Linked DNA regions of Homo sapiens: region 2 is linked to region 1. The links come from fine-mapping of genetic effects on gene expression. A gene starts in region 1. The other region holds a variant in brackets. All regions are shown on one strand. Distances are between the middles of the regions. Region 1 holds the start of NDRG3 (NDRG family member 3). Region 2 overlaps NDRG3 (NDRG family member 3).

The links. PIP is the estimated chance that this variant, and not a neighbour inherited with it, causes the effect. A credible set is the group of variants that fine-mapping cannot tell apart.
Region 2: its variant is the best candidate, but not a certain one, in a credible set for the expression of NDRG3 in sun-exposed skin (GTEx, PIP 0.51).

What each region holds. Positions count from the first base shown.
Region 1 is chr20:36,743,853-36,749,230 of GRCh38, reverse strand. It overlaps NDRG3 (NDRG family member 3), which reads left to right and starts at 3,141. Exons shown (of 16, transcript NM_032013.4): 1 at 3,141-3,186. RefSeq lists silencers at 1-18, 3,098-3,297, 3,328-3,517 and enhancers at 2,888-2,987, 2,712-3,678.
Region 2 is chr20:36,693,757-36,699,134 of GRCh38, reverse strand. The region is part of intron 3 of NDRG3 (NDRG family member 3); the gene reads left to right. Among named protein-coding and RNA genes, the nearest start is that of NDRG3, 50 kb to the left of the region's middle. RefSeq lists an enhancer at 2,121-2,621. The variant T/G (reference allele first, on the strand shown) is at 2,210.

The DNA.
Region 1 (5,378 bases):
AGGAGTCTAGGAGAGAAATGACAGCTTGTGCTGGGTGTTGGCAGTGGATGAGTGGGGTGGGACTGCTCGTGTTGCCCACAGTGGCTAGAACATAGGCATGTAACCTAGGTGTTAAAAACCTAACTCTAGCCAGGCATGGTGGCTCATGCCTGTAATCCCAGCACTTTGGGAGGCTGAGGTGGGTGGGTCACCTGAGGTCAGGACCAGCCTGGCCAACATGGTGAAACCCCATCTCTACAAAAATACAAAAATTAGCCAAGCATGATGGCAGGTGCCTGTAATCCCAACTACTCAGGAGGCTGAGGTGGGAGAATTGCTGGAACCCGGGAGGGGGTGAAAGTTGTAGTGAGCCGAGATTGTGCCACTGCATTCCAGTCTGGATGACAGAGCAAGACTCTGTCTCAAAAAGAAAAAACCCCTAACTCTGCCATTTATTAACTGTGACTGAAAAATTTATTTAATCTCTTATCTCGAAGGTTGAGAGAATTATAGAACCTATATCACAGGGATGCTGTAAGAATTAAATAATATAAAAGTTTAGCGGTATCAGTATGCTGCAGGAGGTGAAGCCTGAACAGTGGGTAGATGATGGAGCAATTTGAGATGGGAAAGCTCGTTCTATTTGGAATACCAAATGGAGAAATCAACTGGTCTGTCAAATAACACAGGTGGAGAACTGGGTGGAGAAATCGAGACTGGAAATAACATTTGAGAGTTGCTGATGTCTAGTTCTTGATGACTTGAGAATGAATGATATAGTCCACAGTAGAGCAAGAAGGGAAAGTTTGGATGGTCTCATGGAAATCCAACATTTAAGAATCAGAGCAGAGCGGGACACAGTGGCTCATGCCTATAATCCCAGAACTTTGGGAGGCCTAGGCAGGAGGATTGCTTGAGTCCAAGAGTTCTAGACCAGCCTGAGCAACATGGTGAGACCCTCGTCTATATCTATCTCTATCTGTATCTCAAGAATCAGAGAAATGCTCTTAATTGCCTACTCTTTCATAAACAAAGTAGTACAATGGAGAGAGTTGGAGTGAATTTTCCTTTTTCTTTTTTTTTTTTGAGACGGAGTCTCGCTCTGTTGCCCAAGCTGGAGTGCAGCAGCGCAATCTCGGCTCACTGCAAGCTCTGCCTCCCGGGTTCACACCATTCTCCTGCCTCAGCCTCCCGAGTAGCTGGGATTACAGGCACCCGCCACTACGCCCAGCTAATTTTTGTATTTTTAGTAGAGACGGGGTTTCACCTTGTTAGCCAGGATGGTCTCGATTTCCTGACCTCATGATCTGCCCGCCTCAGCCTCCCAAAGTTCTGGGATTACAGGCGTGAGCCACTGCGCCCGGCCATGAATTTTCATTTTATCCTCAATTTCCTCATCTGTAAAATGGGGACAGATTATCTCTCTAAAGATGATTATACCCTCCCCCTTTTTATTTATTACATTGTATTGCATTTTTTGCTTATAAGGATTTCTTCAAACTCAAGAAGTATGTTTTGTGTCTTCAACAGTAAAATACGATAGAACAAAGAAAAATAATACTTACTGAGCTCTAAGCATTTTACATGCATATTATCATTCAGTCTTTGCCACAACCTTGTAACTTCTATTTCTGGGTGTGTGACATAGATGAGGAATTCGGGCATGGAGAGGTGTGGAGAGACTTAATTGTCTAACCAAGGACATAGGGATAAATAGTGGATGGTGAACTAGAACTAATTTGAATTCAGTAAATGTTAACGAACATAAACCATAAAATAAATGGCTGTGCTCAATTAATGTTAGTTTTCCTTCCAACTAAATTCAGTTCAAGAATTGTGCTTGATGAATAACAATATTATTGCTGCCCTCTGAGATGTTTGGTAATATTCATTTGTTCAGTTTGCCTTAATTAAAAGAATATGCTTTTAGTGGCCGGGCGTGGTGGCTCACACCTGTAATCCCAGCACTTTGGGACGCAGAAGCAGGCGGATTGCTTGAGGTCAGGAGTTTGAGACCAGCTTGGCCAACATGGTGAAACCCCATCTCTACTAAAAAAAAAAAAATACAAAAATTACCCAGGCATGGTGGCGCCCGCCTCTAGTCCCAGCTACTTGGGAGGCTGAGGGACTTGGGAACCTGAGCCGAGATGGCGACACTGGCTCGGGTTAAAAGGGCGTGGTGGCTCACACACCTGTAATCCCAGCACTTTGGGAGGCCGAGGCGGGCAGATGACGAGGTCAAGAGATCGAGACCATCCTGGCCAACACGGTGAAAACCCGTCTCTACTAATAATAGAAAAATTAGCCAGGCCCGGTGGCACACGCCTACAGTGCCAGCTACTCGGGAGGCTGAGGCAGGAGAATCGCTTGAACCCAGGAGGCAGAGGTTGCAGTGAGCCGAGATCGCGCTAGTGCACTCCAGCCTGGCGACAGAGTGAGACTCCGTCTCAAAAAACAAAACAAAACAAAACAAAAAAACTTTTAGTCAGTGGTACTTAATGGTAAAGAAATAATAGATAATAAATAGAGGAAGAGTGTGTCCTGTACATTTTGGTGTTAAATTGTTGGGTCATTAAGTTTAATATCTGCAATCATTCTGGGAAAAAAAATTCCATCTCTAATGTTGCATTCAAGAAAGTAGATGATTTGGCTGACGGTTGTAATAGGGGTGATACAATGGAGGACTGGTAATTCGGAGCCCTGAGTCTTGGACTCTAGTTCTTAAATTACTATGTTCATTCACCAAAAATTTACTAAGCTCTTTCCACGTGCCGAGCACTGTGCTAGGCGCCCTGTGACCTTGGGTATGGCTCTAGGTCACCTTAAAAGGAGGATGCCATACCCTGCAAGAGCTCTTAGGGGCTTCATAAGGATGCGACTCAGGGAACTGAGGGAAGCGCTCCAGACGCAGAGCTCAATGGCCCTGCCGCCCAGCGCCTCCAAAATCTGAGATTCTTCTCTGAGGAAACTCCGCAGCAAGAAAAACTACATCAAAGATGGCGCCGCCGGCCTCTCCTGGCTCAGCCACCATCTTCTCGGTAGTTCCCGAGGTGGACGGGCACAGCACTCATGCGCCGCCCTGGCGTCCTCGGCGCGCCTGCGCGGACCGCAGCACCTCCCCCGCCCCTCTCGCCGCCGCCGCCGCCGCCGCCGCCGCCGCCGCCGCCGCCGCTGCTGCTGCACTGACGGCGGGTGCCCGCGCCTCAGGTGAGTGAGCGCCTCCGCCCGGCCCGCGGGGGGCGCGCGGCGCCGCATTCGGGGGCGTCGCTCCTTTGCCCTGCTCCTTCCCCGCATCATCTCCGCGGCACGGCGAGGCCCTGGTGGCCCGTGCTGCTTGCCTCCCCCGTGCCCCCGGGGCCCTCTGCCCCGCCCCGCCCGCCCGCCGGACCCAGGTCAGCCCGGCTTTCCTCGGCCGCTCCCCGCGCCCAGCCCGCCGGCGACAGCGTGTGGGTAGCAAGAGAGCCTCCCTCCGGGCTCAACACCCTGGGTCACAGGGACGCCCCCCGCAGGCGCGAACCCTTCTCTCGCTCTGGCTCTGCAGGCGGCAGAGCTTGGTGGGCCTTGGGGTTGCTCATCCATCTACCTCGCCCGCTCCAAGAGCCCAGATGCTTGGAAGAGGGGCCGTGAGCAGCCCTTGCACCCGTCCGGCCCCAGAGCAGCAGAGGGCATCCTCTAACGGGACCCTACGACTACCCTACCGGGGAGAGGCTTCTTAGCCCCACTTAACAGCCGAGGAAACTGAGGCACGGAAAGGTGAAGTGCCATGCCCAAGGTCACGCAGCTGACAAGTGGCAGGGTCAGCTCTCAACTCAGGGTCTCGGGCTCTCAGGCCAGTGCGGTTGGAATTTGATCTCGTACCTTTGAAAAAATTTTGAAATCACTTGTCATCTCTGAAGTTGCTCTCGAACGTCGTAAAAGTAGGCTGCACAAAAAAGATTTTCTTGTTGTCGGAGTACAATTGAGGTGTTACTGTAATAATAATAGTGTTATTAATATAAGAGCTAACGTTCTTCCACCGCTCGCTGTGTGCCAGGGATCTTGCTAAGCATTTTATTAAGATAACCTCGCATAACCACCTCTGCACTTCCCAATCCAAATGCTTCCCCCTTCCTTGTCATGAAGCCCTTTTTTTCTTCCTGCAGAGCTGGCCTCCCTATCACAGGTAGACTAGGAGCCCCGTGGATTAGGAAGCAGGGAAGCTTTCCTTTGGTGGCTTACTGACAGAACAAGAGTGATCCTTGCCTGCTGGCATCCAGATCACCCCCGCCGCGCCCCCCCCCCCCCTTACCCTGGCCCTCAGGGGATATTATTAGCCTTCCTTTCCTGCCAAGAGAGCAGGACTGGGCTGACTGGGCTAGCTGGGCGGGCTGGACTTGGAGGTGACAGAGCAGATTTGGCTAGCACTCACCTCATTCCGGGGCTTTCTGTCCGAGGCTTTCTGCCTTTGCCCCAAGGTTGGGCTTGAACATTTCAGTATTTAAGATAAAGCAAGAAGAGAAAGAGAACATTGATAGAGTGGTGCTGAATTTAAGAAGCCTCCCATGATTTAAAGTTCCAAATGAACAGCTATAAAAATATGTGAATGTTTCTCCCCCAAAATAACTAGCTCAAACTGTCGTTTTTCTCCCTTAGCAAATCCTCCTCCACATTTCAAAGGCTCCACTAAATCACCACCTTCTCTGTGAAGCCTTCCCTGCTTGATTTTCCCAATTAGAATTACACGTTCACAAAACAGGGTCTTAGCCTCAGTCTTACCCTGCGGACTTCTAGCCCCTTGAGGGCATGGTCCATCTTTGCAGCTCCAGATGCCTGGCTCACAGTAGATCCTTGGTAAGGACTCAGTTAATTTCCACCCCCCCTTTTCATTACTCAAAGCGTGGTGTTCTTCTGGTGCCCTTCTGTTCCTCCTTCCTGCCCTTCAGTTTCTCTTTGCTTGTCTCTTCCTTCAGATTAAACTTGTCATCACCATTTACCACTCAAAGGCCTCCATCCACCCTGTTGTTTTTGAAAACTTGCAGATAAGAGTCTTGCATCAAAAAGCCTGTTTATGGACCGGGCGCTGCGGCTCACGCCTGTAATCCCAGCACTTTGGGAGGCCGAGGTGGGTGGATCACGAGTTCGGGAGATGGAGACCATCCTGGCTAATACGGGGAAACCCCGTCTGTACTAAAAAATAACAGAAAATTAGCCGCGTGTGGTGGTGGGCGCCTGTAGTCCCAGCTACTCGGGAGGCTGAGGCAGGAGAATGGCGTGAACCCGGGAGCTGGAGCTTGCAGTGAGCCGAGATCGCGCCACTGCACTCCAGCCTGGGCAACAGAGCTCCGTCTCAAAAAAAAAAAAAAAAAAAAAGCTTGTTTATGTTACTTGAACGTGCACTCACGATTGAGCTGCTTTTGTTT
Region 2 (5,378 bases), 50 kb after region 1:
TCTCCAAGAAATCTAAAAAATAAAAATTAGCCAGGTGTAGCAGTATGCGCCTGTAGTCCTAGCTACTTGGGAGGCTGAGGTGAGAGGATTGCTTGAGCCCAGGAGTTCTATGCTGCAGTGAGCTATGATCACATCACTGCACTCTAGCCTGGGCACTAGAATGAGATCCTGTCTCTAAATATATATGTGTACGTATATGTATGTATACATATATATAAATAAACAGAATCTATAGTGTTGCTTTTTAAAATATTGGCATAAGTGGTATATTTTTAATATATATCCTTTTGCATCTTGCTCTTTTACATTTTTTTGAAGATTTTCTGTGTGTATTAATGCTAATAATTCTAGTTCATTTTTATCTGTATGTCATTATATGAATAAATCGTAATTCATTTATTAATTTCCCCATTGATGAATATTTGGGCTGTTTCCAGTTTTTTTGACATTATAGAGAAGGTTGTGATGTTTACACCCTTGACCAACACAGGTTTGAACTGTATAGGTTCACTTATACATGGCTTTTTTTTCAATACATAAATTGGATTTTTTTTTTTTTAAGAAAGGGTCTTGCTCTGTCACCCAGGCTGGAGTGCAGTGGCAAGAACATGGCTTACTGTAGCTCAAGTGATTTTCCTACCTCAGCCTCCAAGTAACTGGGACCACAGGCATGCACCACCAGGCCTGGCTATTTTTTAAAAATTTTTTGTAGAGACAGGGTCTCACCATGTTGCCCAGGCTGGTCTCAAACTCCTGGGCTCGAGCAGTCCTCCTACCCCAGCCTCCCAAAGTGCTGGGATTACAGGCATGAGCCACCACACACAGTCAGAAAGCTTCCGGAGATTTGTAGCAATATGAAAAAACCCACAGCGGGGCAGGATGGCTCATGCCTATAATCCCAGCACTTTGGGAGGCCAAGGCAGCCAGGTCACCTGAGTTCAGGAGTTTGAGACCAGCCTGGCCAACATGTTGAAATGGTATCTCTACTAAAAATACAAAAAATCAGCCAGGTGTGGTGGCGTGTGCCTGTAGTCCCAGCTACTCAGGAGGCCAAGGCAGGAAAATCACTTGAACCCAGGAAGTGGAAGTTGCAGTGAGCTGAGATCGGGCCACTGCATTCCAGCCTGGGTGACAGAGCAAGACTCTGTCTCAAAAAAAAAAAAAAAAAAAAGAAAAAAGAAAAAAACTCGCAAATTATGTAACCTAGAACTATTGGAAACATTCGGAAAAAGGTATGTCATGATTGTATAAACTATATGTAGACATTAGTCTATTTTATCATTTACTAACATAAAATATACACAAATCTATTACAAAAAGTTAAAATTTATGCACACACTTATAGATCATACATGGCACCATTCATGGTTGAGAGAAATGTAAACAAATGTAAAGATGCAGTATTAAATCTTTTTTTTTTTTTTTTGAGACAGAGTTTTGCTTTTGTTGCCCAGGCTGGAGTGCGATGGCACGGTCTTGGCCCACTGCAACCTCCGCCTCCCGGGTGCAAGCGATTCTTCTGCCTCAACCTCCCAAGTAGCTGGGATTATAGGCACCCGCCACCACGCCTGGCTAATTTTTGTATTTTTTAGTAGAGATGGGGTTTCGCCATACTGGCCAGGCTGGTCTCAAACTCCTGACCTCAGGTGATCCACCAGCCTCAGCCTCCCAAAGTGCTGGGATTACAGGTGTGAGCCACTGCGCCCGGCCCTGAACAGATTTTAATGCAGACAAAAGTGCCCTATTCTTGGGGGGGAAAAAACCTGCCACAAAGGACATATTAGTAAGGAAGAGAAATGAGCACCAGAATTTAAGGCATGAAGGGATGGGCTAACTCTGTTTTGTGTAAATGCGGCCAGGTTTATGATCAGGACTGCCCTATCTTTAAACTTGCAAACCCCTAAGCTTTGAAGGGAAACAAAAAACACCAGCTGCCAGTGTTTTGATTGTACAGCAAGAAGGCCTAGATAATGAGAACACTTTTTCTGGATTGGTTCCATCTACGCTTTGTCTCTGAAGTCACAAAATACCTTGCCAGTGAGAGGCTGCCTTTCAAAGTTCTTTTGATATGGACAATGCCCCTGGCCACCCAGAACCCCAGAACTTCAGTATTGAGTTAAATACTGAAGGTGTCTAAGTGTTCTACTTGCCCTCAAACACAGTATTTCTGATTCTGCCTCTAGATCAGGGGGTCATAAGGACCTTTAAG[T/G]TTCATTATACATGGTACTTTATGGAACAGATTGTCAATGCTGTGGAAGAGAATCCCAATAGATGGAACATCATAAAAGTCCGGAAGGATTACATCATTGAAGATGCCATTGTTGTTATAGAAAAGGCCAGAGGCGGCCGGGCGTGGTGGCTCACGCCTGTAATCCCAGCACTTTGGAAGGCCGAGGTGGGCGGATCACGAGGTCAGGGGATCGAGACCATCCTGGCCAACATGGTGAAACCCCATCTCTACTAAAATACAAAAAATTAGCTAGGCATGGTGGCGCGCGTCTGTAGTCCAGCTACTTGGGAGGCTGAGGCAGGGGAATCACTTGAACCCGGGAGGTGGGGATTTCAGTGAGCCAAGATTGTGCCACTGCACTCCAGCCTGGTGACAGAACAAGACTCCGTCTCAAAAAAAGAAAAAAAAGAAAGAAAAAGCCAGAGGCCACACGCGGTGGCTCACACTTGCAATCCCAGCACTTTGGGAGGCCAAGGCAAGCAGATTGCTTGAGCTTAGAAGTTCAAGGCTAGCCAGGCACAGTGACTCACGCCTGTAATCCCAGCACTTTGGGAGGCCAAGGTGGGTGGATCACCTGAGGTTAGAGTTTGAGACCAGCCCAACCAACATGGTGAAACCCCATCTCTATTAAAAATACAAAATTAGCCAGGTGTGGGGATGCACACCTGTAATCCCAGCTACTTGGGAGGCTGAGGCAGGAGAATCACTTGAACTGGGGAGGCAGAGGTTGCAGTGAGCCGAGATCACACCATTGCATTCCAGCCTGGGCAACAAGAGTGAAACTCCATCTCAAAAAAAAACAAAGTTGAAGGCCAGCCTGGGCTATCGGGGGAATCCCCCAATATTTCAGTGTAGGTTCTTTTCTATTTTCCCTAAGTGTTGGCTGGTCTGAGAAATAAAGGGAAAGAGTACAAAAGAGATAAATTTTAAAGCTGGGTGTCCGGGGGGAGACATCACATGTCGGCAGGTTCCATGATGCCCCCTGAGCCGTAAAACCAGCAAGTTTTTATTAGCGATTTTCAAAGGGGAGGGAGTATACGAATAGGGTGTGGGTCACAGAGATCACATGCTTCAAGGGCAATAAAATATCACAAGGCAAATGGATAGGGCAAGGTCACAAGGGTAGGGCAAGGTCACAAGGCCAGGGCGAAACTAGAATTGTTGATGAAGTTCCATGTCCCGCTGTGCATGCATTGTCATTGATAAACATCTTAACAGGGTTCAAGAGCAGAGAACTGGTCTGACTAGAATTTGCCAGGCTGGAATTTCCTAATCCTAGCAAGCCTGGGGGCGCTGCAGGAGACCAGGACGTGTTTCATCCCTATCTACAACTGCATAAGGCAGACACTCCCACAGCGGCCATTTTAGAGATCCCCCTCCGTCCCCCCAGGAATGCGTTCTTTTCCCAGGGCTGTTAATTATTAATATTCCTTACTGGGGAAAGAATTCAGCGATATTGCTCTTACCTGTTTTTGGCAATAAGAGAAATATGGCTCTGTCCTGCCCAGCTCCCAGGCAGTCAGACCTAATGGTTATCTCCCTTGTTCCCTTGAACATCACTGTTATCCAGTTCTTTTTTCAAGGTGCCCAGATTTCATATTGTTCAAACACACATGCTCTACGAACAATTTGTGCAGTTAACGCAATCATCACAGGGTCCTGAGGCGACATACATCCTCAGCTTACGAAGATGACAGCATTAAGAGATTAAAGTAAGGACAGGCATAGGAAATTATGAGTATTGATTGGGGAAGTGATAAATGTCCATGAAATCTTCACAATTTATGTTCAGAGATTGCAGTAAAGACTGGCATAAGAAATTGTAAAAGTATTAATTTGGAGAACTAACAAATGTCCATGAAATCTTCACAATTTATGTTCTTCTATCACGGCTTCAGCAGGTCCCTCTGTTTGGGGTCCCTGACTTCCTGCAACACTGGGCAATATGGTGAAACCTTGATGCTACAAACAGTACAAAAATTAGCCGAGCATGGTGGCATGCATCTATGGTCCCAGCTACTTGAGAGGCTGAGGTGGGAGAATTGCTTGAGCCTGAGAGGTGGAGAATGCAGTGAGTTGAGATCACGCTACTGTACTCCAGCCTGGGTGACAGAATGAGACCCTGTCTCAAAAAATAAATAAATAAATAAATAAATAAAAGGCCTTGAAAGCCATGAAGCTGAAAACAATAAATTTCTGCTGGAGAAAACTGTGTAGAGATGTTGTATATGACTTCACAGGATTTACAACAGAGCCAATGAAGGATCATTACAGAGATTATGAATATGACCAAAAAAAGGTGGGTCATAGGATGAAGGGTTTCAAGGTATGGATTTTGGAGAAATTTAAGAGCTAGTAGACACCACACCAGAGTAATTAGCAGAAGACAACTTGATGGAGATGAATGCTTCTGAACCAGTGCCAGGCAATGAGGAATATGTAGAAGAAGCAGTGCCAGAAAACAAATTGACATTAGACAGCCTGGCAGAAGGGTTCCAGTTATTCAAGACTGTTTTTCACTTCTTTTATGTCAGGAACTATTCTGTGATACGCACACTTTAACTAAAGTAAACAGTGGAAGAAGGATTGGTACTGTATAGAAACATTTTTAGAAAAATGAGAGTGTAAAAAGTCAGACAAATTACCATGTATTTCTGTAAAGTTACATCAAGTGTGCCTGCCTCCCCTGCCTCCCCTTTCACCTCCTCCACCTCTTCCTTCTTTGCCACCCTTGAGATGGCAAGACCAACCCCTCCTGTTCCTCCTCGTCCTCAGCCTACTCAACAAGATAACAAGGATGAAGACCTTTATGATGATCCACTTCCACTTAATGAATAGTAAATATATTTTCTCTGCCTTACGATTTTCTTAACATTTTCTTTTCTTTAGCTTACTTTATTGTAAGAATACAGTATATCAGTGGTCCTTAACCTTTCTGGCACCAGTGATCGGTTTTGTGGAAGACAATTTTTCCATGTATTTGGGATGGTTTTGGGATGATTCAAGCACATTACATTTATTGTGCACTTTCTATTATTACATTGTAATATATAATGAAATAATCGTGCAACTCACCATAATGTAGAATCTGTTGGAGCCCTGAGCTTGTTTTCCTGCAACTAGATGGTCCCATGTGGGGGTGATGGGA